Regions from separate parts of the Homo sapiens genome. Here region 2 is linked to region 1. The links come from fine-mapping of genetic effects on gene expression. A gene starts in region 1. The other region holds a variant in brackets. All regions are shown on one strand. Distances are from middle to middle.

Evidence for each region. PIP is the estimated chance that this variant, and not a neighbour inherited with it, causes the effect.
Region 2: its variant is the best candidate, but not a certain one, in a credible set for the expression of PFKFB1 in cerebral cortex (GTEx, PIP 0.62).

What each region holds. Positions count from the first base shown.
Region 1 is chrX:54,991,835-54,996,227 of GRCh38, reverse strand. PFKFB1 (6-phosphofructo-2-kinase/fructose-2,6-biphosphatase 1) reads left to right here and starts at 2,040. Exons shown (of 14, transcript NM_002625.4): 1 at 2,040-2,317. The coding sequence starts at 2,221.
Region 2 is chrX:54,427,006-54,431,398 of GRCh38, reverse strand. No RefSeq gene overlaps it. Among named protein-coding and RNA genes, the nearest start is that of TSR2, 11 kb to the left of the region's middle. The variant G/C (reference allele first, on the strand shown) is at 2,470.

The DNA of each region.
Region 1 (4,393 bases):
TTATACCAGTTAGGAAATTTATTAGAATTAAAAGAGTTGTATCTCTTACAAAGTCTAGTTCTGAGACTCTAGAGGTTCTGAGCTAACCTGTAAGACCACATTCTTAGATCAGGCTTGTTTGATTAATTAAAGAAAAGCCCTGGCCTGGGAGAAATTAGGTCCCTAGTGTTCTATTCCTGACTTGGCCACTGATTTACTACATGACCTTAGGAAAATATTTCTAGACCTCAGTTTTCTTACCTGAGAGGGTGAGATGAAATGATCTTGCAAGTCTTTACACAAAATCAAAAGAGTAAAACCAAATTCATCCTTCTAATTGATTTGCAGGAGCTCTTTGTGTATTATAAATGTTAACCCTTTCCCATAATATTGTAAGTTTCCTTAACTGAGAGTTTTCTGTATGGTCAGCATTATATTAGAAGTTTCAGATTAGTCAAGGAGGTGTCTGATCATTTACCTCCCAAAGGGAGTAACAGTGTTAGATAATATATTTTTAACATTTCACAGATTGCTTTACATTTTTTAACACATTGAATCTTCAACAGTCCTAAGGAGGGTAGGTACTCCTATCATTCCCATGTTCCAGATAAGAAAACTGAAGCACTGAAAAGTTTAGTCTTCTGCTCATTGCCTCATAGCCAACAAGGGGCAGAGGTAGGATTCCACTCAAGAAATATTGCTCCAGAGCCTATTGCTCTTAACCATCATGATCTGCTATCTCAGTTGATTCATTTAGATAGGTGGGCTCTGGAATGTATTAAAAATTTGGTATGATTTATACACAACAACTGGAGGGAATCTGACCCTTGTGTAGACTACGGCTTGCAAATGTATTTTAGGGAACTTCTTAAAAGGCAAAGTGGAACTGAGAGCATTTGAGGGCAGGGATTGGAAATTTCTGTCCCCAAGAGATTGCCCTTGTGTAGCCCAGCTCAGTGGAAGAAAGTTGAGCTTCTTCATAGCCAATCGTTGGAGGTTCATTGGGGGTGGGAAGGTTGCAAAAGAGTGAAGTAAGAGGACACTTGTGCATCTTCGAGGCAAGCTGTGCAGTTCTATGAGTTATACACATAAAAGCCTCAAAACAACGGGTCAGGGGAGCGGGAGAGGGCAGGTGAGAGTGAGTCATCTGGGCTGGATGACTCTGGCCTATGGACTTGTCCTACTTTGAGGCCATTGCTCTCTGTTCCCTGCTGCAGCCTCCACCCTCCTAAATCTCCATCCTAATAGCTTGGCATGAGGAACTTTAGTGAAATTTTCTATCAGTTCATGATGCCAGTGTCATTCTCCTTAGGGCATCTGATGGTGGCTAACAGCCATGTGGGCAGAGCTTACCATTCCCCCACCTCCAGCCCCAGGCAATGGCTGCACTCTTCCAAAGGTGTCAGTTTACTCCTATTTATTTAGCCCTTGGCTGGAGAGAGTAGAAAGATGATCGGATAGTGCCCATCTCTTCAAGAGTGCTCCAGGCAGCACATTTCAGGTGGGAGAGGCCCTGTGGCAAGGAAGGCAGCAGAATCCAGAGAAGACAAGGGATGCAATGCCATTTTGGGTCGGGGAAGCAGAGAAGTAGTGGACCTTCCATGTCCAGTTTGGGCCTCTAATTGCCAGCTCAAAACACTGCATTCCCCAGTAGGGACTTTGTGTTTGTGTTTTTGTCCTTGGGAACCTTGCATTTCTGATGTGAATCTTGGTTTCTGGGTTGGAGCTTGACATTCTACTTGGGCCCATTTTTTTATTTCAAAGCTGGGAAAGCCGCTGAGACCTACCTCCATCACCTTTGCCTCTATACCCCACACAGGCTGTAAGCACATGATCTTTGGTCTTTTATTTGCATACTCTATTAGTCTTGTCTTCATTGGAGGGAAGTGACTGGTCAGACCTGGGCTGTGTTGCTGGCTGCCTTCCTTGTTGGGCTCCAACTTACCTCCTATGTACACAGCCCTTGGAGTTCAGAGGCCTCTCCTGACCTCTGCCCAACCTCTCGCCCTCTGCACCCAATACCCCACTAGTACATACAGGAGCAGAGGCAGGCTAGGACCAGAGGAAAGAAGAGAGGGGACTGAAGACAGACTTTGAGAGGGCTCAGAAACCCAGTACACCCCCTGTCCCAGCCCTGTCCACCTGCTGCTGTGGCCACAGCGAGAGAAAAGACAGCTAGTAAGATAGGAAGTGAGGCCAGGTACCTTGTGGGCAGTGATGTCATTCGGTGCGACTCCTAAGATGTCTCCAGAGATGGGAGAGCTCACCCAAACCAGGTTGCAGAAGATCTGGATTCCACACAGCAGCGGCAGCAGCAGGCTGCAACGGAGAAGGGGCTGTAAGTGGGGTTTGCTTCCGTGGGTTTAAAGGTGGTGGTGGTAGAGTGGGTGTAGAAGAGCAAAGGATGCACCTCCCCTTGCCATCCACTCCTACCTCAACCTAAAAGTTGGAATAGATGAACAACTGGATGAAATAGAGGCTAGTGTCAAAAACGTGAGGAAAAGAATGAGAGAGAAGACAGGCGGAAAGAGAGATGAAGACAAAGGAGGATTAGGTTAAGACCATCTTAATCAGAGGGATCTTTAGGAACTTTTCCTTTCTTATGCAGAGCTTGTTTGGAATGCTTCTTGTTTGGAATTTAAGATTTCTAGTTTAGGACTGTTCAGTGATAGCCTAGTATGTTTCATTTTGGTGACTTCTGTGAAGTGTCTGGGAGTTGGTCTTGCCTGACTGATAGTGCCTGGGTGAAATAAGGTGATGGCTCCTGGCATCATCTTTCAGGGGACAGGTGCTGGGTACACAACAGTGCCATGTCACTGGTCAGTATTGCTCCTCTCCTTTCTCAGGCCTTTTCTGAGTCTATACCTGCCTAGGTTGGGAAACACTTAATGTCCTGTCTCCAGTGTTGCCTTCCTGGCACATATGGACTTCCTTGCTGCTCTGGAAATTTGAGAGAGGCAGTCTCTCAGGGCCAGCCCACTGGTGTGGTGCTCACTTTGGAAATTTAAGAAAGATCAAGGGCAAAACAAAACCTGTACATATTTAAAACAAAATCTGGAGTGTACCATTTCCCATAGATAACAGGCGACAGTGGTGGACCAAGGTGCATCCAGCCCAGGGATTGTGGCCTGAGTGGCCATAAGGTGGGTTAAGATAAGGCAGCTGTGGACTGTGGGACTCAGACACCCCAAAGGCCAGCTAACCAAGTTTCCAGTCTGCTAATGCTAGAGGAGGCCCAGGCTTAGGGATATTGGGGGTAGCAGTAGTTGCTTAGAGGATCTAGGAGCATATAGGATGTTAAATATAGTTATAATATACAGGAGGTAGGGTGTGGGTGGAGGAAGAGAGAGAAAAAAGACTAGGCTCCTATTCTCTCTCTTTCTTATCTCCACCAGCTCTCTCACTCACTCATCTGGAGATCTAGGAGCCTGGAGACTGAGAGGTACCCTCGCCCAGCCAGCCACTCTTGGCCTTTTCCAAGGGGCTGTTTAGTTGACAAACAAGCAAGCCATTCTCTGCATACACGGGTCCTCCAGAGCTAGAATGCTTATAGTCCTGGGAACTGTGTCTTTCAAGTTGGAGAGATAATATACATAAATCACCTAATATAGTCTCTATCAAATAGAAGGTGAAAAATAAATATGTGCTTACTTTTGTTTGGAGTGTCACTTTCCTCAGCTATAAAACAGGATTAATGCCTGCAACCCAGTGTTATTGGGAGTAATTCACTGATTCAGAGGTTCTGGATCCAGACTGCCTAGGTTTGAGTTCCAGCTCTATCTCCCCCTGTGTCTGTGACCTTGGACAACTCTCTTAACCTCTCTTGGCTTCTGTTTCCTCACTTGTAAAAGGAAGTTAATAACAGTGTAGTTGTGAAGATTAAATGAACTGGAGCATGGGATGTGCTTAGAAGAGTGTCCAGCACATAGTACATACGCAGTAATTGTTAATTATCCTAATTATTATTGTTCTTGTTATATAAACAAGAAAGCGGGTGTGTGGTCTTATTTACCATCATATCCTCAACATCAGGCCCTGATCCTGGCTCATAGTAGATGCTCAGTAAATGGTCACTCTGTGCTACTTCCACTCTACCACTCACCATAGCCAAGAATGGGGCTCTGTGTGTACAAGACAGTCACTCATTAATATTTGACTAAATTTTATCAGACCATAGATGCAAAAAACTTAGATAGTGGTTGCCAAGTCTGGACAATGTCTGGTTCACTTCTTGCTAGGGAGGCCAGTCTATTGGTCCCTGTAAGGTCTGAATCACCTTTTTCTTGGAGCATCCTCTCTAGCAGACACACAGTTACTTAATGTTATTTTGAAGATTAAATACATTAACATGTAAAGTACTTGAACAGCTGTGCATATTCTTTTCTCATCCAACATTATGTTTATGCGAACCACC
Region 2 (4,393 bases), 560 kb after region 1:
TTTAAGCCATCATTATTTGGTGTCTCTTTGTTACATGCAATCACATCTGATGCCAGCTGAGCCCTCTTGAGTGAGCCAATGCCTGAGCTCACTCAGAACTCACTCGGAACTCCCGGACTTCTCTCAGGAGAGTGAATGCCACTGGGTGCGGTGGCTCACGCCTGTAATCCCAGCACCTTGGGAGGCCGAGGCGTGTGGATCATTTGAGGTCAGAAGTTCAAGACCAGCCTGGCCAGCATGGTGAAACCCCGTCTCTACTAAAAATACAAAAAATTAGCCAGGCGTGGTAGTGTGCGCCTATAATCCCAGCTACTTGAGAGGCTGAGGCAGGAGAATCACTTGAACCTGGGAGGCGGGGGTTGCAGTGAGCCAAGATCATTCCACTGCACTCCAGCCTGGGCGACAGAGCAAGACTCCATCTCAAAACAAAACAAACCAAAACAAACAAAAAGTCTGAATGCCCATGCTGAGCACCCAACAGTGAGTGATCCAGACAGAGCTCCTGACTGACTAATACAATGAGATTGATCTCAGGTATACCAGTGCCTGAACCTCTGGACAGACTACCATAAAGCAGGTGGCCCAAACAGTTTCTAGACCAAACCCCTAAAATGATTTCCCCAGAGGCCCCTGAAGAAGCTCCCCAAGCTGAGTACAAGAGACTCAGTTTGCAGAATTAAGTTTCAGATCCCCATACTAAAGCAATACTCTGAGCTCTGCAGAAGAAAGTCATACTACCAACCTTAGAATGAACCTTGGATGGAGCATCAACCTGTCATATCCAGAATGAGCCCCTTGACTGTGCCTAGCAGATAGAGTACCCCTCACAGTCAGAGCCTCCAAACTGAGTTCTACAGACTAAAATTCCCAGGTAGAGTTCTCTGAAACTGATCTGCCAAACTAAAGTCACAAATTGAGTCCTTCAGGCTAGGACCTCAGACTGACTGACCTGCAATAACAGCCCTAAGTGGTCCACTCAGGTTGCTCAGATTGAACCCAAGAATAGGCCTCTAGAGTGCCTAGATAAGCCCCCAAACTGATATCCCAGATTGAAATCTCTAGAAGAAGCCCCTCGGGAAACTGAAATAACCACTGACAATGTTGAAACTTATCTGAACCCTGTATTCCTGGAAATCAGCCATGGTCAAAAAATTCCCCAACCTGGCCAGGTGCGGTGGCTCACGCCTGTAATCCCAGCACTTTGGGAGGCCGAGGTGGGCGGATCACCTGAGGTCAGGAGTTTGAGACCATCCTGGCCAAAATGGTGAAACCCCATCTCTACTAAAAATACAAAAAAATTAGCCAGGAGTAGTGGTGCGCACCTGTAGTCCCAGCTACTCAGGAGCCTGAGGCAGGAGAATCGCTTGAACCTGGGAGGCAGAGGTTGCACTGAGCCGAGATTGCACCACTGCACTCCAGCCTGGGTGACAGAGTGAGACTCCATCTGAAAAAAAAAAAAAAAGTTCAAACAAGAGACAATGGTGGTTTGGTGTAGATTAGAGATAGTGGAGACGGAGAGATGTGGACAAATTCAGGATAAATTTTAGAGGTAGAACCAATAGCACTCCATAATAAATTGAGTGTAAAGGAGGTGAGAGAAGGGATGATTCTCAGCTTTCTAGTTCAATAACTACTGGTTATACAGATGGGAGAAGGTGAGAGGAGGGAAAGACTTGGGGAAGAATATCAAGATTTCTGTTTTAGACATGTTCAATTTGAGGTGCTTGTGAGATAATCCAGTGGCGATGACAAGGAGGCAGTTGGTTCTACAAGCTCAGAGAACTTCAATATTTAGAGGTCAGCAAAAGAGACTGAGAAGAAACACACGTGTTTCTAGGAGGGATTGTTGATTGCCAGATGCTACTGAAAAGACAAGTAGGATGAGAAAAAAAAAACAAACCTGTCTGTTGGATTTGACATGAAGTCTTTGGTGACTTTGACAAGAGTGGGTTCTATGGAGTGGTATGAAGCTAGACTGCAGTTGGTTGAAGAGTGGGAGATGAAGTGGAGAGAGTAATATGTAACTTACATCTGGAGAAGGTTTGCATGAGAGGAACAGAGAAATAGGCAGTAGTAGGAAGAGCTCATGGTATTCAAGGGGGCTCTTAAAGATGGTATATCAGCCAGGTGCGGTGGGTCACGCCTGTAATCCCAGCACTTTGGGAGGCCAAGGCAGGTGGATCACCTGAGGTCAGAAGTTCGAGACAAGCCTGGCCAACATGGTGAAACCCCATCTCTACTAAAAATACAAAAATTAGCCGGGCGTGGTGGTGCACACTGGTAGTCCCAGCTACTCAGGTGGCTGAAGCAGGAGAATCACTTCAACCCAGGAGGCAGAGGTTGCAGTGAGCCGAGATTGCACCACTGCACTCCAGCCTGGGCAAGAGAGCAAGACCCTGCCTCAAAAAAAAATGATAATTATCTCTGAGAGTGGAGAGGTGATCACAGCAGGATTGCTATAAGTCCCAG[G/C]TACTAATGCCTATTTGAGGTCTGCAATCAATACTTTAGAGTGAAATCATTGGCTTCTGTGGGGTTTTTTTGTTTTGTTTTCTCTAACAGCATTCAGCTGCTCTCTTACAGAGGCAGAGAGTAACCTGGGTTGTGTTTGGCCAGATGAGTATAAAGATGAGAGAGACGGGCTGTTTGTTTTCTATGCTGTGTAACAAGTTACCACAAAGTTAGAGACATAAAACAACACACATGTATTATCTCACAGTTTCTGTGTGTCAAGAGTCTGGGAACAAATTATCTGGGTCCTCTTTTTCAGGGTCTAACTAGGCTGCATCGTGGGTGTCAACTGGGGCTGCAGTCTCATCAGAGGCTTAACTAGGGAAAATATCTGCTTCCAAGCTCCCTCAGGCTGTTGGAAGAATTCATCTTTTGTTTCTTTAATATCTCCTATATCATATCAAGGAAGAATTAATCTTGAAGCTATAGGACCGAGGTCCTCATTTTCTTGCTAGCTTTCATCCAGAGTTGGCTCTCAACTGCAAGTAATGAGTTCCTTGCCACGTGGCCCTGTGATAACTTGGCAGCTTATTTTTTCAAAGCTGACAGAAAAGAGTCTCTGTAACTCCAGTATACCAAGATGGAGTCTCAGCAAAGTGACATCCCATCACCTTTGCCATATTCTATCGTTATTTATTTATTTATTTATTTATTTATTTATTTATTTATTTATTTTGTAGAAACAGAGTCTTGCTATGTTTCCAGGCTGGTGTTAAACTCCTGGGCTCAAAAGATCCTCCCACCTCAGCCTCCCAAAGTGCTGGGATTACAGGTATGAGCCACTGCACCTGGCCTGCCATAGTCTAGAAGGCTAGAAACAAGTCACAGGTTCTGCTGACACTCCAGAAGATAAGATTACATAGGGCATAAACACCAGGTGGTGGGGATTACTGGAGGTCACTTTAGCATCTGTTGGCCACAAGGGCTAGAATAGTAAGGATGTTTGCAAGGGAGTGATTACAATGATGAATAATGAAATCTAAGCTGAGTGTATTAGTTTTGTATTGCCACATAACCAATTACTACAAATTTAACAGCTGTAAAAAAACACATATTGTCTCCCAGTTTCCATGGGTTAGAAATCCAGGCACAGCTTAACTAGATTCTCTGCTCAGGGTCACACAGGCTGCAATCAGGATGTTGTCCAGGACCACAGCGTCATATGAGGTTTAGGTCCTCTTTCAAACTTACATGGTTGTTGGCAGAATTTAATTCTTTGTGGTTGTAGAACTAAGGCCCTCAGACCCTAGGGGCTGCCTACCATGTGGCCATCTCCATAGGTAGTACACAATAGCATAGCAGCTTCTTGCTTCTTCAAGGCCATCAGTTTGAGTTCTTTGCATGCTAGCAAGATGGAGCCATAGCTATATCTAGAGAGAGACAGAGAGAGAGGTAGGGGCAGGGCAAATCAGAGGAGTGAAATCCTATCATCCTGGCCATATTCTATCGGTTAGAAGCAAGTCACAATGACCACCCCCTTCAAGGGAAGGGGGATTATACAGGGCATAATAATGGGGTAGAGATACTATGGGGGTCATCAGATAATTCTGCCTACCATGCTGGGTAAGGAGAGAAGTGAGGACATGAGGGGACTGAGGGGCAGTTAGTTAAAAGGTGGTGGGACCTGCCGGGTGCGGTGGCTCACGCCTGTAATCACAGCACTTTGGGAGGCTGAGGCAGGCAGATCACGAGGTCAAGAGATCGAGACCATCCTGGCCAACATGGCAAAACCCCATCTCTACTAAAAATACAAAAATAAAAAATAGCCAGGTGTGGTGTTGCATGCCTGTAGTCCCAGCTACTCTGGAGGCTGAGGCAAGAGAATCGCTTGAACCCGGGAGGCAGAGGTTGCAGTGAGCTGAGATGGCGCCATTGCACTCCAGCC